Linked DNA regions of Homo sapiens. The protein of the gene in region 1 interacts with the protein of each later gene in a pairwise test. Each region holds a gene or a part of one and is shown in the gene's direction. Other genes may lie near its edges.

The links.
Region 2: the proteins of TTPA (region 1) and FGF14 interact in binary tests that used the Homo sapiens proteins (3 or more experiments, as listed by UniProt).
Region 3: the proteins of TTPA (region 1) and JOSD2 interact in binary tests that used the Homo sapiens proteins (3 or more experiments, as listed by UniProt).
Region 4: the proteins of TTPA (region 1) and THAP4 interact in binary tests that used the Homo sapiens proteins (3 or more experiments, as listed by UniProt).

What each region holds. Positions count from the first base shown.
Region 1 is NC_000008.11:63,057,760-63,062,995, reverse strand, and holds the end of TTPA (alpha-tocopherol transfer protein), read left to right. Parts: intron 1-819; coding exon of another isoform or gene 820-1,005; exon of another isoform or gene 1,006-1,570; coding exon 1,571-1,744; 3' UTR 1,745-3,508; downstream 3,509-5,236.
Region 2 is NC_000013.11:101,912,680-101,922,516, reverse strand, and holds the start of FGF14 (fibroblast growth factor 14), read left to right. Parts: upstream 1-5,571; 5' UTR 5,572-5,871; coding exon 5,872-6,064; intron 6,065-9,837. UniProt on the Homo sapiens protein: Probably involved in nervous system development and function.
Region 3 is NC_000019.10:50,504,090-50,508,953, reverse strand, and holds the end of JOSD2 (josephin-2), read left to right. Parts: intron 1-1,254; coding exon 1,255-1,380; intron 1,381-2,381; coding exon 2,382-2,576; intron 2,577-2,681; coding exon 2,682-2,781; 3' UTR 2,782-2,956; downstream 2,957-4,864. UniProt on the Homo sapiens protein: Cleaves 'Lys-63'-linked poly-ubiquitin chains, and with lesser efficiency 'Lys-48'-linked poly-ubiquitin chains (in vitro). May act as a deubiquitinating enzyme.
Region 4 is NC_000002.12:241,605,049-241,614,218, reverse strand, and holds part of THAP4 (peroxynitrite isomerase THAP4), read left to right. Parts: intron 1-7,745; coding exon 7,746-7,905; intron 7,906-9,170. UniProt on the Homo sapiens protein: Heme-binding protein able to scavenge peroxynitrite and to protect free L-tyrosine against peroxynitrite-mediated nitration, by acting as a peroxynitrite isomerase that converts peroxynitrite to nitrate.

The sequences.
Region 1 (5,236 bases):
TTTGTCTTCAAGAACCACCCTTAAATTGCCTGCTTTAGCAAAAATGGCCACTTTCAGCTACTTTTCATTCTAGTATTTTTATACAAATCAATTTTGTTTGTTCATTTTTTTCTCTCTTCAGTGTAACTTGATAATATCTGGCTTCCCTCTGTTTAATTCTTAGAGATCTAAAAATAACTATTTCTATTTTGAGTAATATTTTAGATAAAAACAAAAACAAGAATAAACTGAACCTAAGAAATAGGAGAATATGGAGAAAAAAGCAAAAGTAAAAAGTTGAGAAGTTAGGGGAAGGATGTCAGTGAAAGTTAGTTGACGGGAAACAGACTTGCCAAAATAGGGAGAAAAAAACTCTGATCCAGCCACTTTTTTCCTTTTTAACTTTTTGGCAATGCCCCATACATTTTCTTATTTTGCCCCTTCCTGAGGAGATAGAATTTCTTCTCAATTACCTGATAATATTTTACATATTTCAGAAAAAATTAAAGATTGGCTTTGTGAGTTTCCTAAGTGAGTATAGGAAACTCATTTCATCCATCAAACCTCATATCCCAGCACATAATAGATGCTTATTAAATGATTGTTGAATACATAGAGGAACATTTTGCCCTAGAAAGTGAAAAAAGGTTATTTATTTATTTTAGCAGGTATGCTTTTGGTTCAAGTTTCTACGGCTTTCTCTTAACTTCAGGGCATTCTATGATCAATTTTATAGTTTAAAATATTTGAAAAGTTAAGGTTCTCAACTATCATAATTGTTTTTTAATACTTTTTTAAAATTTGACTTTTTAATTCTTTTAATTCTTTTTTTTTTTTTAGACAGGGCCTCACTTTGTGCAGTGGCACGATCTTGGCTCACTGCAACCTCCACCTCCTGGGCTCAAGCAATCCTCCTGCCTCAGCCCACCAAGTATCTGGGACTACAGTCCTGCACCACCACGCCCAGCTAATTTTTGTATTTTTTTTGTACCAGCCATGTTGCCCAGGCTGGTGTTGAACTCCTGAGCTCAAGTAATCCACCTGCCTTGGCCTCTCAAAGTGTTGGGATTACAGGCATGAGCCACTGCACCCGGCTGTCTCTTAACTTTATACTAACTAACAGTATCCATCGACTGTACCATATAAATTGTTTCTCATAGATTTAATTGTGTGCTCAGATATATGCTTCTACTTAATATGAATTAGTACCAGCTAGTACATTTTTATCGTGTATAGAATAGTCCCAAGGTATTAGTTTGGTAAGAATCACTTGCACATAAGGGAATAGAATTTATAAAATAACTTTATTTAATCTTTAAAAATTTACTTATGAAAGAGGAAAATAACTTTTTATAAATTTTATGCAGTTATAAGAATGCAAATCCAAGAAACAGTAAGGTTATTAGATCCACAGTAATACAACCTAAACATAAGTAAAATTATTAGATTCATAACCAGAGGAATAAAGGATGTGGTATCTATTTATACACTCCATTTTAGAAGTTATTAGAATACCTTGTTTTATGAGGTTGATTTTCCACTGGAAATGCATCTAATGCGGTTTCCTTCTAAAGTGTTTTGGCTATTTCAGATTCACATGCATGGGAACAACTACAAACAAAGCTTGCTTCAGCATTTCCCAGACATTCTTCCTCTGGAATATGGTGGTGAAGAATTCTCCATGGAGGACATTTGTCAGGAATGGACAAATTTTATAATGAAGTCTGAAGATTATCTCAGCAGCATTTCTGAGAGCATTCAATGAGAAGTTATGTCATGTGAATGGCTTCCTAACTAAAAATACATGAGTGATATCCAACCTGGTTAAATGAATGAAAGAAAAGGAGCAAATCTTTTAAACTAATGCTTGCCTGAACTTTAAAAATGTAGAAATCTTCTGACATGAGCAACACAGGTGTTTGGAAAGATTTTTTACTTTTTAAATGCTTTTTTCTCTACTTTTGAAGTAATTAAATGTCAGTACATTTTAAGAGCATAAAAATCGGCGATTTTGTACTTGAAGAGAACATGAAAGTTATTGCTAAAGTAGCTGCTCATGTGCATCTTTGTATGTTTCTAGAAAGTTATATTTTAAACAAGTTCTCTGATTAAATTGGTTTAGAAAAAAATTTAGAAATATTCCGCTTAAAAATACTAGCACAAGTCAGCTAATGATAAAAAAATTAACACTTGTTTTAAGTGGATGTCAGATTAAATTATAATTCATTATAATTAAAATCTGAATAGAGTTTTATGGTTATTCCTGTGGACCAGCAAGACATTTCATCTCAGGGAAATTTTATTTTAGTATATTAACACGATAGAAACTTTTTTTTTTTTTTTCAGACAGAGTCTTGCTCTGTCGCCCAGGCTAGAGTGCAGTAGTGAGATCTCAGCTCACTGCAACCTCTGCTAGGATTACATGTGCACACCACCACTCCTGGCTAAGTTTTGTATTTTATATAGAGATGGGGTTTTGCCACGTTGGCCAAGCTGGTCTCAAACTCCTGAACTCAAGTAATTTGCCTGCTTCGGCCTCCCAGAGTCCTGGGATTACAGTCGTGAGCCATCGCGCCTGGCCGTGATAGAAACTTTCAGCTGAGGAGTCTATATGCCATACTACTCTATGTGGCATCTTTAGGTCTCTGTGAAATCATGTTGATGTAATTGATTAACAAAAATAATTTAGAAAATACGTCAGGCACAGTTGATGGCTTCTCAATATCTGCTTTGCATTTTTAAACAAATCAAGAATGTAATTTTAACTTTTGCTTATGGTCATTCTTATGACTACACGGAAAGGGATGGAATCATACTTACTTGTCTTATACATGGACTGTTTTTAGTTAACAATAACGTAACTACACAAAGGAAAGGAAATGTTTACATTTTAAAAAATTACTGTCAATTACATCTGGTATTTTTCAGATTATGCATAAAATAATATGAGTTTGACTATTGTATCAGAATATTTTAATCAAATCCTGCAATTTATATTAACTTAAAAAAACATCTGGTAAAGACTGGGTGTGGCAGCTCACACCTGTAATCCCAGCACTTTGGGAGGCCGAGGCTGGATGGATGATTGCTTGAGCGCAGGAGTTCTAGACCAGCCTGGGCAATACAGGGAGACCCTGTCTCTATTTCAAAAATAAATAAATAGGCCCCGGTGTGTGATGTTCCCCTTCCTGTGTCCATGTGTTCTCAAAAAAAATTAAAAAATAAAAATAAAAATAAATAAATAAATAACCGGTAAAGATGTACTGTTTCTACTGCAGTTTATAATATTTCATTTATTAAGAAAGATATCATCTCAGCTTTCAAATTCAACATAGCCCTCAATTTATGACATAAGTTTTATACTTAGTATTTTATAATTTCTTAATTTTGTTATAAACTTGAAAATGTAGAATATGGGGTCCAAAATCTGTTGAACATTTGTTCAGCTAGTTAGGTTTCAACATTAATCATATACATTAATAGTATCTTTATGTAAGGATATGTGAAGGGTGTTTTTCTTTATAAGAAAATTAGTTTAATCAGGTGAGCTGATACTTAGGATTATACATATATCTATGATAAAATTGAAAGTAATTGTGGTTGTTCTTTAGAGAACGTGTTTTGATTTTGACTTAGTATTGGGAAGCTAACAACATTATAATTTTTATTAAAAAACTGGACCCTGGGCCGGGCGCGGTGGCTCACGCCTGTAATCCCAGCACTTTGGGAGGCCGAGGCGGGCGGATCACGAGGTCAGGAGATCGAGACCATCCCGGCTAAAACGGTGAAACCCCGTCTCTACTAAAAATACAAAAAAATTAGCCGGGCGTAGTGGCGGGCGCCTGTAGTCCCAGCTACTTGGGAGGCTGAGGCAGGAGAATGGCGTGAACCCGGGAGGCGGAGCTTGCAGTGAGCCGAGATCCCGCCACTGCACTCCAGCCTGGGTGACAGAGCGAGACTCCGTCTCAAAAAAAAAAAAAAAAAAAAAAAAAAAAACTGGACCCTGCCTGTTTTCTAAAAAACACTTTAAAGTATTTTAAAATAAAAGCATACTATTTAAAATTGTATAATTAAAAATAATAAAAGAACAAAATCACTTAAAAAGAATAAACAGTGTCAATAACAAAAAACCTCTGGCTTACCCAACTTTTGTTTCTAGAAGATTTATATCAATCACCAGTTCCACTTCATTTATTTTTGTTTATTTCAAACACTTTCTTATGACTCTGTGGAGGAGTGATTAGTTTAGTACCCAAATAAAGGATAACATTTTAAAATGTCCTTTAAATTAGATTTTTTTGGTGATAGGTTCCATAGTAAATAGAATTAAGATAAGTCAGTTAATCTAGGCATATTTTATGATGGAACTTTGAAGTGTTTATAAATGAAACAATTCACTGAAGAACATTAAAAGAAAATTGAAATGAATGGTCAAATTAATAAAGTGTCAAAGCAAATAATTGTCTAATTGTCTATATTACTTTAGTGATTATGCCAGAAGTGCCTTTTAAAAGGTTAACTGTATTATGTGCTCATTGTGTTACTCAACTGCACGTAATTTATTTGTTTTAATATTGTTTGAAAGAAAATAAACATCTTTCACATAAACCATAGTGTACAAGTTATTTTTTAATTTTAAAATGTAAATATGAGGCATTCTTTTTCAAAAACTGCTTTTCCTTACAGAAAAAAAAATCTTAGCACATCTATTTGTCCATCACTCCAGTGTCAGTTTTTTCTTCATAAGTTTAATGACAGGCTGGTATTCCAGCTGCTTAGTTCAACACCGTATTTCTCTAATGTCTTTCGCTGTACATAAAGGGGACCACAAACTAATTACTAAGCCATGGATAGTCAAGAAGTTAAAAGTTTTAAGCAAAAAATGCCATAGTTTGCCACTTAATCAGATAATTTTATTTTCTTTAATAGACTTCATTTTTTAGAGCAGTTTTTGGTTCTCAGCAAAATTGAGCATGAAGTACAAGATAGAGCCATTTAATTTCGAAACAATATGCTATTAGCCTAGATCATGATTTCATTTGTCAAACTAGATTTTTCTTACAGAAATAGCACTGAAGTCCTATTACAAATATCTTTATCTTTGCCAATCACCTAAATTAAGACTGTAGATCATAAAACATGTTAGACATATAACCAAGAACTCCAGCCAATTAGTCAGATGGTATTGTCTGAAACACTCTTTACTGGCCTTATATATTGAATTTTGCCATACCTAGATGCTGTGGAGGAACTAGAA
Region 2 (9,837 bases), on another chromosome or scaffold:
TGAGGAGGCAAGATAGAAAACTGTGTGTGTGTTAGGAAGTGTGGAGAAGTGGTGAATCACAAATACCAGAAGTCCTTTTTGATTCAAATGGAAACAGTCTCACATCCTTCAGTAAGCCCCGAGGGTGTCACTGTTGAAATTCAGAACTCAAACTGTTTGTCATGTTTGGTTGAGCCCAGGACATCAAGCAAAGGCTAAAGTATTTTCGGTGTATCCTATTTATGAAGTTGAGATTGTGTGTAATCCAGATAGAATTTTAGGTGTCTTGGTGCTTAAAGAGATCAAGGATCTCTTTAGGTACCATGGGGTACTTCATCCTTGACAGACTGGATTAAGCAAGATTTTCTGTTCCTCTTATTTGGTATTAACTGTCTATTTGTTCAGATATCCAATGTCTTAATCCTTTCAATACACAAATCTTTATTGAGCACCTACTTGCCTGGCACCATTTTAAACACTGGATATGTGGCAGTAAACAAAGGAGACAAAGTCTGTACCTTTATAGGCTTATATTTTAAACGGGGAAGACAGCCCAAATAAATAAGGAAAGTACATGGAAATTTTAAAAGTTGTACGTGCTATGTAGAACCATAAAGCAGGGTAGCAAGAAGGAAATGTCTGTGTTTATGAGTTGTAATTTTAAATAGATTTATGAGCAAAGATGTGAGGAAAGATTCATAGGAGATGAGAGTCAAATGCAACAGCAAGTATAAAAGTCCTGTCATAGGATCATGCCAGGTGGTTTGATGGACAGCAAGTGGTAAGTGAAGGGAGATGAATAGAGATGATGTCAGAGAACAACTGAAGGCAGAGATGGGGCACAAATCACATGAGCCATGGCAGGCCACTACAGTGAGGACTTTGGTTTTGAAGTATGGGATTTCGTAGTTACTATTGTAGTATAATCACCCAAAAGATGATGGTGGTAGGTAGTAGTGGAGGTGGTGAGAGTGATATCTTGGATATATTTTGCAGATAGACAGAATAGATCTTACACAAATATATACGGGGTATTAGAGAAAGAAATGACATTAATATGATACTAAAGTTTTCAGCCTGAGGAACAAGAATGAAGTTGCCATTTCAGAAGTGGCGAGGATTGGAAGAACAGGTTTAAGAAGGAAGAACAGTAGTTCGTTCATGGCCATTTTAAGCATGAGACACTTACCTATCAGACATCTTTGTAGAAGTTTCAATATAGCTCTCTCTTTATTCAACAATTGCTGGTGTTAGTAGAGGAATGATGAAGTTTTTAGAAGGTGCCCTAGATTCAGTGTTAATTAGGGGTAGGTGGCAAGAAGTTTCCCAGAGAAGATATCTATGCTGAGACCTAAACTATAAGCTCCATCAAGACAGAGCCAAAAAGTCTCTTTATTTTTATTTAAAAATCTGTTGGCAAGCCATGGTGGCTCATGCCTTACTCTTTAGCTGATGATTTTTTTTTTTTAATCATCAAGAGGAGTGTGAGGATAGGGCAATAGAAATTTTCCAGGTAGAGGGAACAACATACTTAAAGTTGGAGGACCAAAAGGATCATAGCATCTTCAGGAGACCATCAAGCACAGTGTACTAATTACCTTCCAAACTGATGCTTGTATAGTATTTTAGTGTTTTTAGAAGTACTTTCTCATAGACCCTCATCATAGTCTCTGAAAGGTAGAGAAATGTTTTTATTATCAATCAGTTGGTGTGAAAGTAGGCTTACGGGACTCAGTTCACAAATGTAGTTAATAATAACTAAGGTTTGAACTTGGGACTTATTTCGTCAAAATTTAAAATAACTTCTTATGTTTCGAATTATCTAAAATCTTGTCATGCATCCACTGTGGGGGGGTGGTGGTGAGGAAATATACATAGGGAATACATATATTTTGATATTGAAAAAACATGGAAACTGCAAAAGAATTTACAAGATAGAAATGAGTAAACTGGAAGATGATGATAATACAGTCATAGCTGTCATTTTCAATTAGGGTGCACCAGATGTGGTACTAGGATCTTTACATTTATTTACTAAATTTAATCTCACAGCAGTTGAAAAGGAGGCTCTGTTTTCACCTCAATTTGAGAGATGAAGAAATTGAGGCTGAGAGAGACTAAAGCAACACCTTGGAGGTCATTATACAGCTAGGAAGTTGCAGAGTCAAGAAATGAACCAAGAACCTCTGAAATGAGAGTTCAGGCTCCCAATAGCTTGGTGAGGAGCTACACCACCTGGGCCGTACTTTATTTTCCTCTTTATAACGTCAAAGGTAAAATTAACAACTCCAAGGAGGTTCTGATGAGTGACAAATTATTTTCTGAACTACAGTAACCTTTACATTTGTGTTCACCGGCCCTGAATTGGTTTTCACCCTAGCTTTGCACATTCTTTTATCACAGCTTAAGACAGCAGATGGCTCTCTTGCGTTTTCTTTCACTTACCTCCATCCGTAAACAACTAAACAGCGTTTTGGGGAGGTAAAATGAAAACGCAGGGATTAACCTAAAAGACCTTGATTATCCCAATGCTGCCCCCCTCTCCAAGATCCCTTAAAATAGGAAGCTACGTTGAAGAGAAATGACCGCTTGAGGCTCCTGAAATTCACAGCCAGAATAGATGCCCGGAGACTCCGGAGTCCGCTGTTCAGGCGCTGCGCCAGGGGTCGGGACGCTCGAGAAAGAAAGAGTATCTCTCGGTTATGGAAAAGCTGAAAGGCTTTGTGTTCCAAGGTGTTATTAACGTCGGTAGAAGCTGTGAAGATCAATTTCCTTCCCATCATGAGGGAAAAAAGTGAGAAACTGCTTTTAGGGGAGGAAAGTGTCAGAGACCCTCACAGCCAGCGCTTTTCTCCATCAGCGAACTTGCTTCTGCTGGGAGAGGTAGGGCTGGGGCGGGATCCCTGTCCGCGGTGCTGAATGTCAGGCTGGTCCGAGGCTGCTGAACAACGAAGGGAGGGCTCTGAGAGGGCCAAAAACTGACCTCCTGACCCCCAAGTCCAAGGATTTGGGGGAAAGACTGCAGCATAAGAAAATGCCTGCAAAAATAGAGGCACGGCTATAAGAACAAGAAGCTTAATGTCACTCTTTTCAAATTAATATTGTTGGCACATACATCAAAAGGCTTAAAGAACCTTTAAAAATAAACTAGGTGTGTTGGGGAAGTCATACTAGATTTAAGAGGTCACTATACTTAACATTTTACTTTTTTGAAACACTCACTGCAAGAAGCCTTTGATAATAAACCTGGATGCTTTAATCTTACAGTCATTTGCAAATTCAAATCTAGAACTTCTGAAATGTACAAATGGCGTTTCTTCAATAATAGAAACCAAGAGTAGTGACTCTTAATGTTCAGTAGGACTCATTTCAGTGAATTAAAACAACAGACACACTCAATAGCCATTTAGTTATTTTCATCTCTCTATAGACATCTTTCCCTTTTTAAGCAGGACTACAGCAACACAACATAAATGCACACTCACAAAAAAATGGAAGAAAAGAGACATATGAAACTGAAAATAGAGAGGGAAAGGCAGAGCAAAATAATTAGCATTCCCCTTTTTCTCACTTTTGCTATTTTATGAGTGACTAGGGATTGCAAGTTTCTAGCAAAACAACTCTAGCATATTCCTTTTAATAATTGTAGAATTTGTAGATGTAACATAGCAAAGTGTAGAAAATAAACTTCCAGAAGTACACTTTGTAATATATGACAAACACCGTCGTAAAGCCAATGATCCCTGCCTTAGATCTAAATCTACACACTCTCATCAGGTTGCATTTCCTTCCCAAAAGGAGACTTGTTGGTAAATGTGGAGTGAAGGTAACAAACAACAGCCCAGCAGTGGCTGCTTCCATGGAGAAGCTGTGGATAAGTTGCTTAGAGCAGAAGGTGCCCAGCCTCCCTGTAATCTGCTGCACTTCCCCCCAGTTGCCTGGTGGCGAGTACTCTACTGCCTATTCCTGAGACAAAGAGAAAGTGTGTTTTGGTTGAGAACTGCTCCCAGGGCTGCCTGCGTAGTGTGCTTGCCCTCTTTCCAGCTCTAAAGCAGTCACTGGAGAAGAAGGTTGTTGCAAGTCTCTTGATTACCAAGTGAGCCATCTCTCCCCCTTGCTTCACACTGAATTTCCAGAAGTCTAGTTCGAGCATTTCTTTCTCTTTAGCTGCCTGAGCTGATAGGCAAAGCAGTGTAAAGGGAAGAGGAGAAAAGTAAGAAGCCCGGAGCCAGAGCTGCACTTGGTTCTGCCACTCTGGTGTATCCTAGAAACCACGGAACTGTGTTCATCCAAGCATGAAGTGTTTCTCTCCCAACCTCCCCCCGGCTTTTTGTTTTTTTCGGGTGCCCTCCACTGCCGCCCTTTCTCTTGGACCTTCACATTTTCAGGTATCCAGGAGGGAACCGCTGTCGGGACACAGACAGAAAATCAAGGGGGAGGAGACGCCGGCTGTTGTATTTGAATTTCAGACACAGTTCAGATGGCTTTGCTCCCTGACAGAGCTTCTTTGCCCAGGGACACCAGAAGATGACAGCTCAAATTGGAGTGTCCTGTCTGGCTGCTTTTCACTGTCCCTGGAATAGTGTGACACCCTCCTCTGCCCCTTATATTTCTGCCCTGACTTCTTCAACATTCTCCTGGGCGTTTATCCTACCCAGCTGCTGTTCTGTAGCAGCTACTGCGGCTGTCATCTCCTCCTCCCAGGGCTGGGGAGCATATTTGGGAGTGGGGTCTTTCTATCTCGCTTAATCACACCTTCTCTCTTTCCATTCCCTCCTTTTTGCTCCGTGTAGCCTTTCAAAATGACAAACCTACCCTTCCTGCAGCAGAAGGGAGGGTCCTGCAAGTTTGGGTGGACTAGGTGAGGAGTGGAGGCTCCTCCCTCCAACCCGGGGTTGGGGGTGGCGACGGGGGGGCGTTGGTGCTGGAGGGATTAGCAGGGAGGGCGGAAACCACCTCGCCCTCCAACCGCTGCTGAGAGTTTCAGTGCACCGGTAACCACGTTAAGACCGAGAAGCCCCAACCAAGCCGCGGAAGGCTCGGGAACCAGCGAGTTGCATCTAAGAAAAAGCGCCCCGATGTTCCTTCAATTCCACCTGCTTTGGCTCGGCCTCTTAGCACCCCATCCCTGCAATCCATCTTAGCTTTCTTTCTTATTATTTTTAAATCATTATTACCTATACGTTTTGTTTCTTTCTGAAGAGGTACATCAGGAGGGGGACCACATAGGTGGAGGGGGTGTAGTGGGGTGGGAACGGAGCGTTTGATTAGAGATCTCAGGGGAGAAGATTGGTCTCTCCAGATGCTGATTTCCAAAGCACTTGACAATCACCGGCAGAAGCCGAGAGCGGGCGGCGCCGGCGGCGGCACCGGCCCGCGGGCAGCTGGAGCCCGGCGCTGAGTCCTGCCCAGCGCGACCCGGACCGACGGACGCGCAGAGACCCTGCCGGGACCCGCCCTCCAGCCGGCGCCCGGGGAGCCGCCGGCCGGCTCTACCTCCCGCCCGGGAGCCGGGCAGGGCGAGAAGGCAGCGCGAGTGGCGGTGGCGACCCCCGCCGGGGTTCCTGCGACGAGCGGTGACCAGCAGCGCCCGCAGCCGCGGTCCCGCTCTCCACTCGGACGTGGCCAAGCGGCGGCGGCCACGACGTCCGGCTTCCCGGGATCGTCCGGCTGCGCCCTGGGCGCATCTGCGCGCCTGGCCCCGCGCCCCGCGGAGAGGGCGATGGGTCCCGGTCAGGACTGAGCCCCCCTTCCCCTCTCCCCAGTCCCGCCTGGCACCCCCTCCTCTGCCCCGAGGGCGAGCCACGGTCTGCGCCGCCGCCTTCCCCTCCGGTGCCCCCGGCTCGCCGTCCTCCCGCGCCCTCCCTCCCCGGACCCGTTCCCGGGGCCACCATGGCCGCGGCCATCGCTAGCGGCTTGATCCGCCAGAAGCGGCAGGCGCGGGAGCAGCACTGGGACCGGCCGTCTGCCAGCAGGAGGCGGAGCAGCCCCAGCAAGAACCGCGGGCTCTGCAACGGCAACCTGGTGGATATCTTCTCCAAAGTGCGCATCTTCGGCCTCAAGAAGCGCAGGTTGCGGCGCCAAGGTCTGTGGGGGTCATGGTCGGGAGATGCGCCCCGGGTCGCCCCCTCCCCGCCTAAACGGAGCTTCTCCAGGCTCCTTCCCTCCCTCGGTTTTCCCGGCCCACCCCGGCCCCGGCCTCCCTTCTGAGCACTCTGGGTGCCGTCGCGGGGACCCTGGAGTCCGCTGTCGGGCAACCTGTAGCCGCCGAGAAGTGCAGCCGCCAGAGATGGCAAGTTGGCTGCTCCTCGCCGGCGGCTCCTGCCCTCCGCGTCCCTGCAGGCTGGGCTCTGGGAAACCTGTTCCCCCTGAGTCTCGGCTTCCCGGGAGGATAGGGACTGGCACTGGCTCTGGAACGCGGGGCACCCCTTCCTGCCACACCCGGGGTCGAGCCACCGCTCGCAGTCTGATCTGAGCTGGTGGGGGTTTCCATGGGGTGGGCCTGGCCTCACTTGGTCTCTGGGGTCTCCTAGAAACCTCCCGGGTTCCCAGACCTTGGACAAATGTGGATATCCTGGCGGTGCCCCCAGCGGGAGCTGCTGTAGAAGGAGTGGAGGGTGTGTGAACTATGGCCCAGTCCGCTGAGGTTCAGCAGAAGGCTGCTTAGCGCGCAGCCCTGGGCTCTGCAGCCCTTCAGTCAAATCCTGGGATGGGGACAGAGGCTCAGGGAGTCTAAAGAAAGAATCCGAATTGCGGGGAGCGGGGGGCAGAAGTAAAAATCCCTAATATGTGTCAGTTTTAATTGAAAAACTGGCGAATTGCCTGAGATACAAGCCGTTACTATATAAAGGTGACTAGAATAGTTACCTTACTACAGGTATTTCTTTGAGAAACTAGTACCTAGGATGACCTTTCACTGCCTTTGAAATGCCAGGGTCTGAGAAGGCATCCTATTCAGGAGCCAGGCGCTTTTGTCTCTCTCTCTGCCTGTCTCTGCATCCAGTTGCTAAGGCTGGTTGTTTTGCGAGCATGTGGTGTGTTCTGTGGGGGAAATGGGCATTGCTGGCTTTTCATAACCAAGTGGGGTTGGTAGGAAACATTGAAGAATCTATTTACGTTAATGGGAGTATATGTTTGCCCAGCACATTACATTGTCGGCTCCCAGCTGTATTTGTTTTAAATGCCCTGTTGTTCCAAAGACGGGGGATAGAAGCATAAGCTATACATGTGTTTCTCAAAGAGTGAGTGCGTGTCCTTACATTTGCAAATTGATGACCAAAAGTTTTGATGCTTTTTTTTTAAAGGCTAATGCTGAATATTTTAAAAGGACAATTTCTTGTTGTCACATTTAAGAAATTGGAGATTACTTGCTCTTACTATCAAGCTTCAAAGGCAAAGATAGGAAGAAAATCAGAGTGGAAGTTCTGTTAGAGAAATAAAATTATATAAGTAAAATAAGAACTTCTTGTTGGAGAATTTGGGATCAATCATATTTTCAGACCAGTGTAGGAGCCATTAAGAAAAAAATGGATTTTAATTTTCCACATTAGCCTAGAGCCTTATTCAGCCCACCTTTGTGTAATGAGACCAACTCGACTGCCTTAATCACCGTTGATAGACGGAGGATCAATCTATTATGACTTAAATTGTGCTTATCCTCTTATGTCATCAAACAGACTATCTTTTAGAATACAGTTTTCACCACATACAGCTCCAAATTGGCTGTCTACATAAAGTAAATTAACATACTATCTACTAAATAAGCTTATTTTAATATAAACAATGATTAAAACTTGTGTGTATTTCTTAAGAATATAGCCAGTAGATTATTTTATAAATATGAACAATAAATGTTTTGTGCCATATTGGGTGGCGAAGGAGGATTTGCTTTACACTTAATGAATTTTAAGTTGGGTGTTTACTTTTTTGTCAGTATAGAAAGCTGTCTGAGTTTTCTAATGGTCCGTTTCTCCATTTTCAACCCTGACTGCTCTGTTGGTATTCCTGATTTTGAAATGATAAGCAATCTTCAATGTTCTGTAAGAAAAATATATTTGAGGTCACTTTTCTACCTTACTTTGGACAGGAAAATAGAAGGGAAGATACGTTATAAGGAAATTGTATGAGAATTTTTTATTCTTCTTATATTTCTTATATAAAAGTATATATATTCTTCAGAGGAGAAAAATACAGATATATCTCTTGAGTATCAGAAAAGGATTAATTTATTAGTATCACTAATTTTAAGCAAAACAAATATTAAGACTTTATGTTATGTAAATTATATATCGACATATAATAGTATGCTTTTATATTATTATATATAACAATATAATTATTCATTTAATTAAGTCTTATTGTCGAACATATTTTCAAGCATATTTACCTTCTTATTACACACTCTTTACATAGGGAATTGCCCTCAGAAAATTTTAAAAAATCATATTTATTAAAGATACAACCTTTAAGTCTGATGGTTTTATATGTCTTTATAGCTGAAAATAATATAACAATTATTGAATCTTTACAATCTGTTAGGCTCTGTAGCAGGTATTATATATACATACAGCAGTGAATAGAAGAGTTGAAGTTCCTGCCATCATGGAGCTCACAAACATGGGGTAGAGAGTCATTGCCTATGGAAAGGAACAAATTAATAAGAAATAATAAAATTCAAAGTCCTATAAAGCATGAAGAGAGCTGGGATAAAGAATTATGGAGGAGAGAGGGGTGGGGAGAGGGATCTAATTAGATAAAGTAGTCAGGGTGGGCAACACTGGGATCCACAGGTTGAGAGATGACAGGTAAGAAGGATGCAGAGATTTTAAGAGCAGGTAGAAAAAGCAATGTGTGTGCAGAGACCTTGAGGTGGAAAAAATATTGTCCCATTGGGAGAAAAAAAAGAGGCATAGAAATTTTAAGCACATTGTCAAGTAGAATATAGTGTGATATGCTTGAAAACAGAATAAAGAATAGCTCCACATTTTGTGTTTTGGGGAAGGGTAATACACATTTTTGAAATGTAGGGTTTTAAAAAATCCTTTATTAAGTAGTAATTTATTTAATGTAAAGATTATTGAGTTGGAGCCCTACACCCACACTCTTTCCTATCTCCATCACCCCTACCCCTATAGAAGAGTGATGTTTATACCAGTTGACTTACTCTTGTGAAGGACAGAAATTTGCAAGATGGCTATTAATGGTGTGGTAGGCAGCATGACTGCAACCCACCTTTCCAGATTCAGCTCCATCTACCCTCCACCGACCTCCACAGATTTCAAACACAATACAATGCCACACACCCCGCAAATTAGTCATATGCTTTCAAATCCTTATCCTTTTGTTTGTGCTTTACTGTGTGTCTAGCATCTTCTCCTCACTTCTACATTCACCTGTTGAAATTATGAAATTATTCTCATTTTGAAAAGCTGAGAGAAAATGCCATCTCCTCTGAGAAGCCTTCATTTATTGGATACAATTAAAAATAATTCTCCTGTGGTATTTCATACGTCACTGTTGTTGTTTATATATACCTGATAATAATTAATTAAGTATACATATTCAGCTGATTGTAGGGAAGAAGCAAAGTCTGTGTTTTCTGCATCTTCATAGGCTCTCAAATCTTGAGAGTGTTTGCCATACACTGGGTTCTCCTCATTGCCCTTGGATTGGAGTGAAATAAGGAAGGTTAATAGGCCCAAGCTAAAAAAGAAAGTATCCTTGAACCAGAGTGATCTAACTAGATAATTTTAGACATAAAAATACTTTTCAAATTTTATACCTTTTTTACTTTCCCTAAATAAATATAATTATATCTTTTTTTAAGAGAATTAGAGGGATTACATATTTGTGGGTTAT
Region 3 (4,864 bases), on another chromosome or scaffold:
TGGAGATGGCCCTGCCTCCCCTGCCTCTTGCTCCAAGCCTCCTCCGGCTCTCGGACATCTTAAGAGTCCCAGCCCCTCAGACTGATTATTATGGTATTTAGTCATCTCCTCTATCATTCGCAACAAGGACCCATCAGCTCTTTCATACAAAAGCCATGCTGGAGACCCTGAGATGACTCAGACACAAGTGCCAGCCTAAGGGTGGTGAGGGAAACACACACACACACACACACACACACACACACACACACACACGAGCGTTTTCCTCCCATGTCCTGCCTGCCCAGGGTCCAGATAGGGAACAGAGGTGCAGCTGTTCAGAGGCAGGGCCCAGAGACAAGTGGTGACAGGCGGAAGAGCCTTCCTAGGCAGGGGAAGAGCTGGAGGAAAGGTTGGCGGGGGTGGGGCGGGAGGCGGTGGGCACCGGGGATGTGGCTGGGGACAGGGGACCAGGAAGGAGGGTGCTGAGGCTCTGAGGTGAGGCCACCAGAGCCAGACCACGCAGGGCCTTGTGGGACTCTGTCCTGGGGGAAATGAGGCAGCAGAGTGGGCTGTGAGCAGGGGAGGGGTGAGGGCAACCCCGTGGGAGAAGCAAGCAGTGTTAAATCAGGGTGATGCGGGCAGCTGTCATCGTTGAGGTGGCTCAGTTCACTGGGGGAGCCCAGACAGGGCCCCGATCCAGCCTGGAGGTCAGGAGGCTCCTCTCAGAGGACGTGACATCTGAGGTGGGCCTTGAAGGACAGAGGAAGGGACTGGCGGAGGGACAGGGACTTTGTCCAAGGCATTGGGGAGCCATGGGAGAGCTGAGAGCAGGAGAGGGCCAGGGCCGTGTGGGAATGGACTGGAGGGAGGCTGGAGGCTGCGGGAGAAGACAGAGCCCATCTGGGGCCTTGGGGACAGGGCAGAGTCAGGGCAGGAGAGACAGGACTTGGGGACAGGGCAGAGTCAGGGCAGGAGAGACAGGACTTGGGGACAGGGCAGAGTTGGGGCAGGAGAGGCAGGACTTGGGGACAGGGCAGAGTCGGGGCAGGAGAGGCAGGACTTGGGGACAGGGCAGAGTCAGGGCAGGAGAGACAGGACTTGGGGACAGGGCAGAATTGGGGCAGGAGAGGCAGGACTTGGGGGTGGATGAGTTGTGGGGTCTGAAGCGGGGAGAGTCAAAGGCTGAGGCAACTTGTGGCCCCTGGGACCCCCATTTTGTGGGGAGGCCTTTCCAGGGGTCCCCACCTCAGCTCTGGCCACCCCCACTACCAGGTTGGCCCCAGACTCCCGGCTGAACCCTCATCGCAGCCTCCTGGGCACCGGCAACTATGATGTCAATGTGATCATGGCCGCTCTGCAGGGGCTGGGCCTGGCCGCCGTGTGGTGGGACAGGAGGAGGTAGGCCCCAGAGCAGCACAGCATGTGCTGGGCCGGGCACAGAGGGCACCCTATAGTGTGAGCCTGTTGGGGGGCAGGGAGGGGAATGTGGCTGGGGGAGGTTGGCATGAATGTGGGAAGCCTGGCACTGATGGGTTGAAAGGGGGAGATCAGGTGGTCGATGGGCTGAGATGCTGGGTGGATGATGGTTACTGGGTGAATGCTGAGTAGGCCGTTGGATGTGTTGGGTCAGGGGGAGTGAAGTGATGGGTGTTCCTGGGCAATGGGCAGCAGACAGGAGGCTGGGGAGTTGGGTGGATGAATGGGAAGTTTTGATGGCCGGCTGGCCAGTGGCTGGGCATGTGGCTGGTGGATGAGGGGTAGACCAATGGCAGGGGGGTCAAGAGTGAGTGAGGATTGGGGGCATGGCGAGTCCACTGTTGGGTGAATGGCTGGCTGGGTGGTGGCCGGCTGTGTGGGTGGGTGGGTGGGTGGTGGGTGGTGAACAGTAGATGGCTAGTTGGATGGTGATGGTGGTTGGGTGGTTGACGGGGAGGTGGGGCGGGTGTATATGAGGGATGGAAGTGAATGCATAGATGGGAGGTGAGTGTGTGAATCGTCATTGGGAAGTTGGCTGGTGGCTGGGAGGCTCAGTGGGGTGGGCGGATCATGCATGGATCCTGGGTGGCTGTGTGAGGAGTTGGTAAGTTGGTGGGTGGGTGGCTGGACAGACAGGGTGATGGTGGTTGGTGAAGGGCCGATGTGAGTTGGGTGGACGGTGGGTGGGTGGGTGGACGGTGGGTGGGTGGGTGGGAGGTCTGGTTGGGTGGCCGCATGGGTGGGAGGTTTGAGTGGGCAGGTGAACGGATGAGTGTCGGGAACCAGGGTGGCTGATTAAGGAACACCTCTGGGTGGGCTCAGGAGGCCCTCACCACCACCAGCCTGGGCCCCACATGTTCAGCAACATTTCACCGGCGGGCGGAGCAGGCCCTGATGGCAGTGTCCCCTCCCTGCCCACACAGGCCCCTGTCCCAGCTGGCCCTGCCCCAGGTACTGGGGCTGATCCTGAACCTGCCCTCGCCCGTGTCGCTGGGGCTGCTGTCACTGCCGCTGCGCCGGCGGCACTGGGTGGCCCTGCGCCAGGTGGACGGTGTCTACTACAACCTGGACTCCAAGCTGCGGGCGCCCGAGGCCCTGGGGGATGAGGACGGAGTCAGGTGAGCCCCACAGAGGCGATTCCAAGACCAGGGGCCTGAAACCCCACTCCCCAGACGGAATGCCCAGGCTGGCCGAGCCTCAGTCTCCCCATTTCTCCCACCCAGGGCCTTCCTGGCGGCTGCGCTGGCCCAGGGCCTGTGCGAGGTGCTGCTGGTAGTGACCAAGGAGGTGGAGGAGAAGGGCAGCTGGCTGCGGACAGACTGACCATGGCTGACCATCGGCGCCCACAGCGCAGTCCCTGCGCATCCCCCTCCGGCTGCGCACACTGCATGCCTGGGAAAGGCCAGCACTTCATGGACCCTGGGGAGGCCCCGCCCCCTCCCCACACCCCTGCTCCCCACTGCCGCTGCTGCCTCAATAAATCTGCTGATTTGCTGCCTGCCTGGCCTGTGTCTGACGGCCCCACCCTTCTGGGGCCCCTTCCACTCAGTGACTCCCACTTACCTTACAGGCCAGACACCCTGGTGTGTGGGGCCGAGAGCCCAGGAGGCCTCCTGGTTCTCTGCCACCTCATGCCAGTTTCTCACTGCTGGGCCTCAGTTTCCTCATCAGTGACACAGCAGAAAAAAACACAAGTCCGTGCCCCCTGGGGCTCACGCTCCTCCGGTGCTGGAGAGAGACCAGTGGCAAACAAATGAGTTTGATCTCCTGGGTTCCACGGGGGTCATTGCTAAGGAGAAAGCAGGTGTTTACTTCTTTATTTGATTGATTGATTGAGACAGGGGTCTCACTCTGTCACCCAGGCTGGAGTGCAGTGGGTCAATCACAGCTCACTGTAGCCTTGAACTCCTGGGCTCAAGCGACCCTCCCACCTCAGCCTCCCAAGTAGCTGGGACCACGGGTGCATGCCACCATACCTGACTACTTTCTTTAAATTTTTTTGTAGAGATGGGATCTCGCTTTGTTGCCCAGGCTGGTCTTGAACTCCTGACCTCAAGCAATCTGCCTGCCTCTGCTTCCCAAAGTGCTGGGATTATAGGTGTGAGCCACCATGCCTGAGTTTACTTCTTGACTCTCGATTCTATTCCGTTGATTGGCAGGCGGGCAGAACAGTGGCCCCAAAGATGTCCACACCCTGGCCAGATGTGGTGCCTCATGCCTGTAATCACAGTGCTTTGGGAGGCTGAGGTCCACAAGTATGAGACCAGCCTGGGCAACATAGCAAGACCCTGTCTCTAAAAAAAAAAAAAATTAAAATAAGTGGCATGTGAGGCTGGTGGCTCACGCCTGTAATCTCAGCACTCTGGAAGGCCGAGGCGGGTAGATCACCCGAGGTCAAGAGTTCAAGACTGGCCAGGCGCGGTGGCTCATGGCTGTAATCCCAACACTTTGGGAGGCTGAGGCAGGCAGATCACGAGGTCAGGAGATCGAGACCATCCTGGCTAACACGGTGAAACCCCGTCTCTACTAAAAATACAAAAAAATTAGCCAGGCATGGTGGCGGGCACCTGTAGTCCCAGCTACTTGGGAGGCTGAGGCAGGAGAATGGCATGAATCCGGGAGGCAGAGCTTGCAGTGAGCCAACATTGTGCCACTGCACTCCAGCCTGGGCAACAGAGCGAGACTCTGTCTCAAAAAAAAAAAAAAAAAGAGTTCAAGACCAGCCTGGCCAACATGGTGAAACCCCATCTCCACTAAAAATACAAAAATTAGCTGGTTGTAGTGGCGGGTGCCTGTAATCCCAGCTACTCAGGAGGCTGAGGCAGGAGAATCGCTTGAACCCAGGAGATGGAGGTTTTGGTGAGCCAAGATCGCACCACTGCACTTCAGCCTCGGCAACAGAGGAAGACTCTGTCTCATAAATAAATAAGCGGGACATGGTGGCCAGCACCTATAATCGCAGCTACTTGGGAAGCTGAGGCAGGAGGATTGCTTGAGCCCAGGAGGTTAAGGCTGCAGTTAGCCATGATCGTGAGTAAGAGAGATCTTGTCTCAAAAATATAATAGCCCAGGCATGGTGGCTTACACCTGTAACCCTAGCACTTTGGGAGGCAAAAGCAGGAGTATCACTTGAGCTCAGGAGTTTGAAACCAGCCTGGGCAACATAGTGAGACCCCGTCTCTACAAAAAATTTTAAAATAAGCTAAGCATGGTGGTGCACACCTGTGATCCCAGCTACTTGGGGGGTGGAGGCAGGAGGATCACTTGAGGCCAGGAGGTCGAGGCTGTAGTAAGCCATGATCGAATCACTGCACTCCACCCTGGGTGACAGAGTGAGACCCTGTCTCAAAAAAATAAATAAAAATAAATATAATAGACCAGGCACGGTGGCTCACGCCTGTAATCC
Region 4 (9,170 bases), on another chromosome or scaffold:
AGCAAAAGAGGTGAGGGTCTTGCTTTGTGGTCCAATCTGAAAAGCCTTTTTTTTTTTTTTTCTCAAGGCAGGGTGTCTCTCCAGTTGCCCAGACTGGAGTGCAGTGGCGCGATCTTGGCTCACTGCAGCCTCAACCTCCTGGGCGCAAGTGATTCTCCCCACCTACCCTCCCAAGTAGCGGGGGCTACAGACACGCACCACCATGCCTGGCTAATTTTTTTGTATTTCTGGTAGAGATGGGGTTTCACTATGTTGCCCAGGCTGGTCTCGAATTTCTGGACTCAAGCAATCCACCCACCTCGGTCTCTCAAAGTTATGGGATTATAGGTATGAGCCATCATGCCCGGCCTTGAAAAGCTTTTTCATATGTAAGTTCAAGCATTTTTAGTCTTGGTTCTGTCATCTTATTTTATATTATGCTTGTTGTGTTTTACTTTTTTTTGTTTTGTTTTTGTTTTGTTTCTGAGACAGGGTCTCGCTCTGTCACCCAGGTTGGAGTGTAGTGATGTGCTCTCGGCTCATTGCGATCTCTGCCTCCCAGGCCCAAGCGATCCTCCCACCTCAGCCTCCTGAGTAGCTGGGACGACAGGCACGTGCCACCACGCCCAGCCAATTTTTTGTAGTTCTGGTAGAGACAGTGTTTTGCTATGTTGCCTGGGCTGGTCTCAAACTCCTGAGCTCAGGCAATCCACCCTCCTCGGCCTCCCAAAGGGCTGGGATTACAGATATGAGCCACTGCAACCGGCCCAGTTTTTAAAATGAAATCTTCCACTGCTACTTCATTTGTAAGCCTCTGTGGTGTCAGCTCTCAGGGACAAGACCAGTGGGGAGTTCTGCCCCTTCAAGGGTCCTATGAGTTGAGTGTCATGCCTGTACGACCAGGCATCTACCACCTATAACCAGTTTTTTTTTGTTGTTTCTATAACCGCTTTTTTTTTTTTTTTGGCTTAGTACATTCAGTGTTTACGGAGGTTTCTTTCCGCATCATTTCCCTATTGTCTCCTGATGACATCCAGCTGCTGGTAATGTCCTCAGGGAGAAGACATAGAAACAAAGCTCCTTGGGTGCCAAGGGTTGAAAACTCCATTCCTGCACTGTCGAAAAGGTCTAGAGAGTGAGTCTCTTATGTAGTTTAATATTTTCTAATAGCTACATTAAAAAGGTAAAAAGAAACAAGTGAAATCGATTTTAATAATATATTTTATTTAACCCGATATTATCTAAAAATTATTTCAACAGGCAACCACCCATACTATAAGATTATTGAATTATTTGAAGACTTTTTGGACTGAGTTTTCGGAATCTAGTTTGTAGCTCGCACTCACTGCACGTGTCAGTGAGCCAGCTCACGCGCCTGCAATCTGGAAGGATCGCTGTGGCCAGCCGTAGCATCCTTGCCACTCACCTTCCCTCCTCATGCGCCTTCTACGTGTGACTCTAGCGTCTTCTGCCACAGAACGCAGCTGTGGAGAAACACTGACCCACGTTCTGTCTCTGTAGATGTGTGTGTTCTGCACCTTTCACAGAAATGGAATTGCAGAATATGTGCTCTTTTGAGCCTGATTGCTTTCATATGGTGTGTTGTCAAGGGCCATTTGAATTGCAGCTTATATTAGTGCTTCATTTTTATGGCCAAATAACATTCCATTGTCTGGATATACTGCAGTTTGTTTACTCATTGGTTGACGGACATCTGTGTTGTTTCCACTTTGGGGCTGTTGGGAATGGTGCTGCTGTAAACATTCATGGGCAGCGTCCTGTGGGGACAGGTGTGTCATTTCTGCTGGGAGTGCATGTCTCCAGGAGTGGCAGTCCTGGGCCACTGCTCCACACTTAACCTCTCAGGCACATGCCAGATGGTCTTCACTAGGCTGTGCCAGTTCACGTCCCCATCAGCAGTGTGCCAGGCGTTCCCGTCCTTCTAACTTTGTTTCCATTTCTCTATCTTTTGTCTTTTTTTTTAACTCATTTCTGTCCTCTGTGTTCCGCTGTGTTTCCCGGTGTTTGTTTCTCCCTGTGCTGCTTCCAATCTCCACTTCATTTGGGTGGTGGCTTGATTTTTTTTCTTTTACTTTCTCGACTTCTGCCAGGTCATGTTTCACCTTCTCCTCTTTCCTTGCCGTTTCTCTCCTGAGTTCTTACATGTTTAGTTAGTGGTCTTTCTTCATGGAGCAGCTTCATTCAACTACTCGGGAGGCTGAGGCGGGAGAATCACTTGAGCCCCAGTGGTCTAGGCCGCAGTGAACCGTATTCATGCCACTGCACTCCAGCCTGGGTGACTGAGCAAGACCCTTTCTCTTAGTTTCACCTTTGCCCCATCAACATTTTGCAGTTTGTATGTTTTGCTGCTCTTGTTCACACTTGGTGTCTTGTCACCTTTTGTCCATCTCTGAACTCAGGCAGTGTCTTAGAGTCCATTAGTCCATTGCTGGAGAAGCAGAAGGTCTTCAGGAGCAGCATGCCTTTCTTTCTTAATTTTTTTTTTTTTTTTTTTGGAGACAGAGTCTCACCCTGTCACCCAGGCTGGAGTGCAGTGGCACAATCTCGGCTCACTGCAACCTGTGCCTCCGGGGTTCATGCCATTCTCCTGCCTCAGCCTCCCTAGTAGCTGGTACTACAGGCACCCGCCACCACGCCCGGCTAGTTTTTTATATTTTTAGTAGAGATGGGATTTCACCATGTTGGCCAGGCTGGTCTCGAACTCCTGACCTCAGATGATCCACCCGCCTTGGCCTCCCAAAGTGCTGGGATTATAGGCGTGAGCCACTGCGTCCAGCCGGCAGCACCCCTTTCTTTCGGAGTGGCGCATTACTTCTCTATGGCGGGTGGTGGGTAACCCTGCATGGAGGCCAGCCTGGGCCTTCAGCACCTGGGCGAACACCTGGGGTGTCCTGGGCAGACGCGTGGGGTGCCCTGGGCCTGCTGTTTGCAGGAGCTCCCTGTGGCAGAGCGGGGGCCAGAAGAGCCTCCAGGCTTCCCAAGTCCAGGGCTCCCCACTCCGCCCCAGGCCTCTGAGCCAGGCCAGACCCTGAGGCTTCTCAGGGGCCACCCCCCCAGCTCCCAGAGGCCCCTCCTGTCCTCCAGCGAGGCACTGACCCACCACTTCTCACAGCATCCGTATGTGTGTTTTGGTGGCTGTGGGTTGTATCTGTGACCTATTTTCCCTCAAAATCAAGTTCAGGGAAAAGGTTTTTTCGTTATTTTTGTTTTTTTTAATTCTTGGGAGGGAAGGTGATAATATTGTTACTTACCTGAGAGTCCCCCTCGGAGACCCCCAGAAGCTGGTTTTAAGGGAAGAAAGAGTAAGATCCCTTTCTGTGTCTCTGTCTCTGGCCCCGTCTCTGGCCCCATCCCCGTGTCTCTCTGGCCCTGTCTCTCTGTCTCTGTGTCTCTGTCCCCGTCCCGTCTCTCGCTGTCCCTGGCTCTGTCCGTCTTTCTTCCCCATTTAAGGAGCGCCTCCTCTCCGGTCCCCTCTGAGGAGCGCTGGATGGAGGACAGGGCCTCCCGGAGAGGACTCCACGGTGGGTGGTGGGAGGGAAAGACCAGGGGGAGGCAGAGGCTGCCGGTGAGAGGCGTCTGCCAAGTAGATGAGGGGCCGGGAGAAGACCCCGTGGCTGGGGAAGCAGGAGTGGGGAGGGCGGGGCCTCCGGGCCGAGGGGCGCGGTCGCTGTGGTCTGTGGAGGGGCTGGCGAGGCTCCCGCCTCTGCTCTTGCTGGAGCTCTTGAGTGAGCCCTGTGACGCCTGCTAGGTGAGGTGGCAGCCAGTGAGCGCGCCCCACCGCCCAGCGCCGCCCAGCCTCCGCCCTGACTCCTCTGCCGCTCCCCAAACAGGGCGCGGTGGCGTGACCCTGGCGCTGGGGGGCGAGCGCGGCCCTCCCGGTCCCGCAGGCGCAAGAGAGGGCGGAGATGCGGCGCCTGAGGCGGGGCTGCGCTTCCGGGGCGGGGCCGGCGGAGGCTGGAGGGGGCCGCCCGGGAGCAGAGGCAGGACTTGCGGCGCGTGCCCCTCACCCTAGCCCGGGGCTGTCCTGCCTCGTGGGGAGTGTGAAGGCCATGCCCGGCGCCGCGGCCCTGGTGCCCCTGTTCCACTGGGACCCTGGGGGGCGCCGCCAGGCCCCTTGGCCTCTTCCTCGGGGCCCTCGGGACCCAGGGGCCGGTGGTGGCCGTGCCGGGGACTCGGGCGTGAGGGGTGGAGATCGCGGCCCCGGTGCAGCAGCTCAGAACCTGGACTCTGGATCGCTGCTCCCCAGCGCCCGGGGTGCCGCTTCCCACAGGGTTCAGCTCCCATGCAGGCTGCGCTCACCAGTGGAAGTGGGTCCACCCGGTCCCAGGAGAGCCAGAGCCCCGTGGCAGTCGCTGTGGGGTGTGCTCCGCACAGGCCAGAGAGCCGGCCCAAAAACCTGAGGTTTGCAAAGCCTCTTTCTTTCTTTTTTTTTTTTTGAGAAAACGTCTCTGTCGCCCAGGCTGGAGAGCAGTGACACGACCTCGGCTCACTGCAACCTCCGCCTCCCGGGTTCAAGCAATTCTTGTACCTCAGCCTCCCGAGTAACTGGGATTACAGGCGTGTGCCACCACGCCCGGCTAATTTTTGTATTTTTAATAGAGACAGCGTTTCACCACGTTGGCCACGCTGGTCTCAAACTCCTGACCTGAGGTGATCTGCCCGTCTCGGCATCCCAAAGTGCTGGGATTACAGGTTCAGTGAGCCATTGCGCCCGGCCCAAAGCCTCTTTCTTTTCAGTGCTGAGCTGGATAAAGTCTACCAAACTGAAAGGTCTCCAAGGCTATAGCTGGCTGTCTGAGAAATTATGGTGTTTGTTTAGCCCATCTTAGGACTTGGGCTATCCCAGGTGACTGAGTTTTGCTGTTTCACACCTCCCAAGGTTCTTCTCATTCTTCCTTTTCTCCATTAATGGTAACTTGTCTTCTCAATTGCTCAGGCCAGAAACCTCCGTTACCATCTTTTCTTACGTGTTTCACATCCAAACCATCAGCACATCCGGGTGGCTCTGCCTTCAAGATAGATCCAGAAGCTAGGTCCTTTCCACTGCCTCCACCACGGCCACCTGGCCCAGGCCACCCTCCTCTGCCACAAGGGTTTTTGCCATTGCCCTCCCTGGCTTCCTGTGGTTGCAGTCAGAGACCTCGTCCCTCCCACTCAGCCTTCTCGAGGGCTTCTGTCTGCTCAGAGTCAAGGTCACGGCCCTTCCGAGGGGTGAGGATCTCCTTCCCCTGGCCACACTGGCCTCCTGTTCCTCTCCAGCAAGACCAGGCCTACGTACCCAGGACCTCCGTCTCTGGCACTTCCACCTGGTCTGCTCTTCTCCAGGGTAGCTGCAGGGACCCTGATCCCCTGCCTGGTCTGTGCACACTTCTCAGGGAGGGTGTCCTTGTCCCTTTTGGGTAGGTTTTCACAGTGCCCCAACAGCCCTGTCTCCCTTTCTGCCTCATCTCCTAATGTACATTCAGTTCTGCATCATTCACTCATTTCTTGTGTATTGTCTGCCCTCGCTAGGATGTATGCTCCGTAGGGATGTATGACTGTTCCGTCAGCTTCTCCCTGGAAGAGTGTCCAGCACGTTGAATGATGAAAGAATTGATCAGCTATGATAGATCACAAGCCTCGTTCCAGAGGCCACACATTGGATTCAGAAGCTTCTATTCCTTATCTCCGTGAAAGATTGCAACGAAAATCTTGATTTAAAAATTCTCTTATTGTCTAATTAGGAAAGTTTTATTGAAGTCCAAATATTCCCATCCTCACCTTCCCACTTTTCACCGGGAGTCTGAGGAGGAAATACTGATATAAAAAATTTTTAAATCATCATTTAAGAAAAACAAAAAAGGAAATACTGAAAGACCACAGGCCAGTCTGGAAAAGGAGCGGACTCTCCCACTCTCCTGCTTCAGGTCACCTATGTTTGCCCTGTGCAGCCAGCAGGCAGAGTGCTCATTACCTGCTCTCCACCCTCGGTTCTCACTCTGGGCCCCAGGGCTCGGCCACTGGGCCAGGCCACATGTGCGGCCCTCCTTGGTTCCAAGCTGTTCTTGGACGTGGTCTCCTCCACCCCCAGAGCCTTTGCTTTCCTTTCCCCCGATCTTCTTTTCCCAGACTTCCTGGAATTTATAATCCAAAGGTTGTGTAATTTCAGAAGCTGCGATGGTTCCAAGAACTCCTGTCCCCGTCAGTCCGTCTTCTGCTTGCGCGGGCCTGGAGGAGACACTGGGGGTCAGTCCTGATCCCGTCCCCATCAGTCTGTCTTCTGCTTTTGCGGGCCTGGAGGAGACGCCGGGGGTCAGTCCTGATCCTGTCCCCGTCAGCTGTCTTCTGCTTGCGCGGGCCTGGAGGAGACACTGGGGGTCAGTCCAATCCTGTCCCCATCAGTCCGTCTTCTGCTTGCGCGGGCCTGGAGGAGACACTGGGCATCAGTCCGATCCTGTCCCCGTCAGTCCGTCTTCTGCTTGCGCGGGCCTGGAGGAGACACTGGGGGTCAGTCCTGATCCTGTCCCCGTCAGTCCGTCTTCTGCTTGCGCGGGCCTGGAGGAGACGCCGGGGGTCAGTCCTGATGTGCAGGCCGGTCTCTGTGCTTGGGCATCTTTGGGCTCCGTAGATGAGGCTTGTGCGGCCACAGAGCTGCTTCTGTCCCTGCTGCTGCTCCTGGGTGTCAGTGTCCGTTCTGTCAATTGAAGCACTGAGACTTGAGGGTTAAGCAGGCCTGGGAAGCAGGTCTTTGGGATTGCCTCTGGGGATCAGTCCTTCTCTTCCAGCGCCCCTGATGGGTAGCATGCAGTGGGGCTTTCCTGTGGTCCCCGCACAGGTCTCCCTTAGAAAATGAGTAAGAGCAGGGCCCGTGCATCCAGCCAGGGTGAGGGTCATGTGAGTGAATCCTGAAAAGCCGCTCGGGAGCACCCAGTCCTTGCTGAGCGAGGCAGGAAGCAGGGGTCCCTTTGAGTTCGCCCAGCAGAACAGCCAACCCAGCGGCCCCTCCCTGCTGTCCTGTCACTGCACCCCCACCTCTGAGTTCCAGGCCTGTGGTGTCATCCTTCACACTTAGTGGGATGAGAGACTGAACCCCACAGGAGACCTTCTAAAGGGGTCTCCTGGCCACTACACAGGCTGCTGTGAAGCCCCAGCCCCTCCTCAGGGAAGCGGGGTCTTACTTCCCTTTTAAACCCCGCCTGCCCCTGGGCCCTCACACTCTGGCTGCTCCGAGACCCTGCATCCCCTTTCATTTTCTCCCTGATGCTCTTTGTCTCCTTCACACACTCTTCACGCCAGGGCACCGTGCCTCCCGTGTGAGCTGCTTTCAGCCTTGCTGTAGGACATGGAGGACCCCTGAGCTATTTGGGGTCACAAGGAAGCTGTTAGTATGTGGTTCTCATATTCTTAACTGTACAAGAAAGCAAAAGCCCCTTGAGGTCCCTCAGTATCCCTTCCCACCACCTGCACCCCACAGGTGGAGAAATTGCCTGCTTTTAGGGAGATAGCAGTGTAGGCCTCTTTGCTTGCGCCCTGCCTGGCCCCTGTTGGATCTCTTTTCTCTGCAGGAACTGCAGAGGCTTCTGAAGCTGGATCTTTCACTATGACATTTACAGTTGCTTGACCATTTTCTCCCGCTCTTGACAGGTCCCCCAGGATTAGCTGTGGCCACCAGAAGCAAGCGTCGATATGGAACGTGCATTCTGCTTAAAGCTCAGCAAGGCATGGTTGGAGGGAGGCCACTGATAGTCTCATTCTTTTGTCCTCAGAGCCCCCCAAGATGAACCCAGTGGTGGAGCCACTGTCCTGGATGCTGGGCACCTGGCTGTCGGACCCACCTGGAGCCGGGACCTACCCCACACTGCAGCCCTTCCAGTACCTGGAGGAGGTTCACATCTCCCACGTGGGCCAGCCCATGCTGAACTTCTCGTAAGTTGTCTCCCTCCACCCCACCCTGCTTGACTCATGGGCCGCCTAGGTCTCTGAAAATAATTCCAGACTGATCAAAGACAAAGGCCAAGCAGGAAGGTGTAAAAGGAACTTGTCCATCTATTTCAGAAAGGTGTCCTCTTGCCTGAATGTGCAACTGAGACACAGAGTGGTAAAAATGATACTTTCTGGTTCTGTTATATTTTTGGAGATATTAAGCTGACCACCAAATTACAGGCTTGTTAATCCAAACATAAAAACAAATGCATGTACTTAATTTATGTATCAAAATTAATCACCCTGGCCAGTGCGGTAGCTCATACCTGTAATCCCAGCACTTTAGAGGCTGAGTCAGGAGGATTGCTTGAGCTTAGGAATTGAAGACCAGCCTGGGCAACATAGTGAGACCTTGTCTCTACTGAAAAGTATTTAGCCAGGTGTGGTGACACATGCCTGTAGTCCCAGCTACTCGAGAAACTGAGGTGGGAGGATTGCTTGAACCCAGGGAGGGCCAAGGCTACAGTGAGCTGTGATCATAACACTGTACTCCAGCCTGGGTGACAGAGTGAGAACCTGTCTCAAAAAAAAAAAGAAAAAAATTAGTCACCCAATATTACTGAAAATAATAGTGCATGTTTGTATTTTACACGTACCCCTGAGCTATTTGGGGTCACAAGGAAGCTGTTAGTATGTGGTTCTCATATTCTTACCGTACAAGAAAGCAAAAGCCCCTTGAGGTCCCTCAGTATCCCTTCCCACCACCTGCTCCCCACAGGTGGAGAAATTGCCTGCTTTTAGGGAGATAGCAGTGTAGGCCTCTGAAGTAGAGGAGAGCCACCAGGGATGGGGAGTGGTTGAAGTATCTTTATTTTTTAATTATAGAAGTAATACACAGTTTTTTTAAAGTTTAAACAAAATATAAAAAGCAAACCCTCCCTTAGTCTCCATTACACAACTATATGTTAAGAATCTTATTAAACCAACTTGGTACTATTTGTATAATGCCTAGCAGTTTCAGAACGGGGCTGGGCACCTGGCTCTCAGACCCCCAGCTCTGAGACCCTCCATCCCCTTTTAGAAGATCTCATTGTTTTTAAAAATATCTCCTACCTTTTTATATTATTATTGATTGAATGCATGAGGTCAAAGTAATACATCTGCACATAAACCAAAAGGTGAGAATTCTGGGTAATACAAAATAACCCAGAACCCAAGCAGTCTTTTTTAAACTATAGATTATAACCCACGAAAAGGTCAGAAAGTCA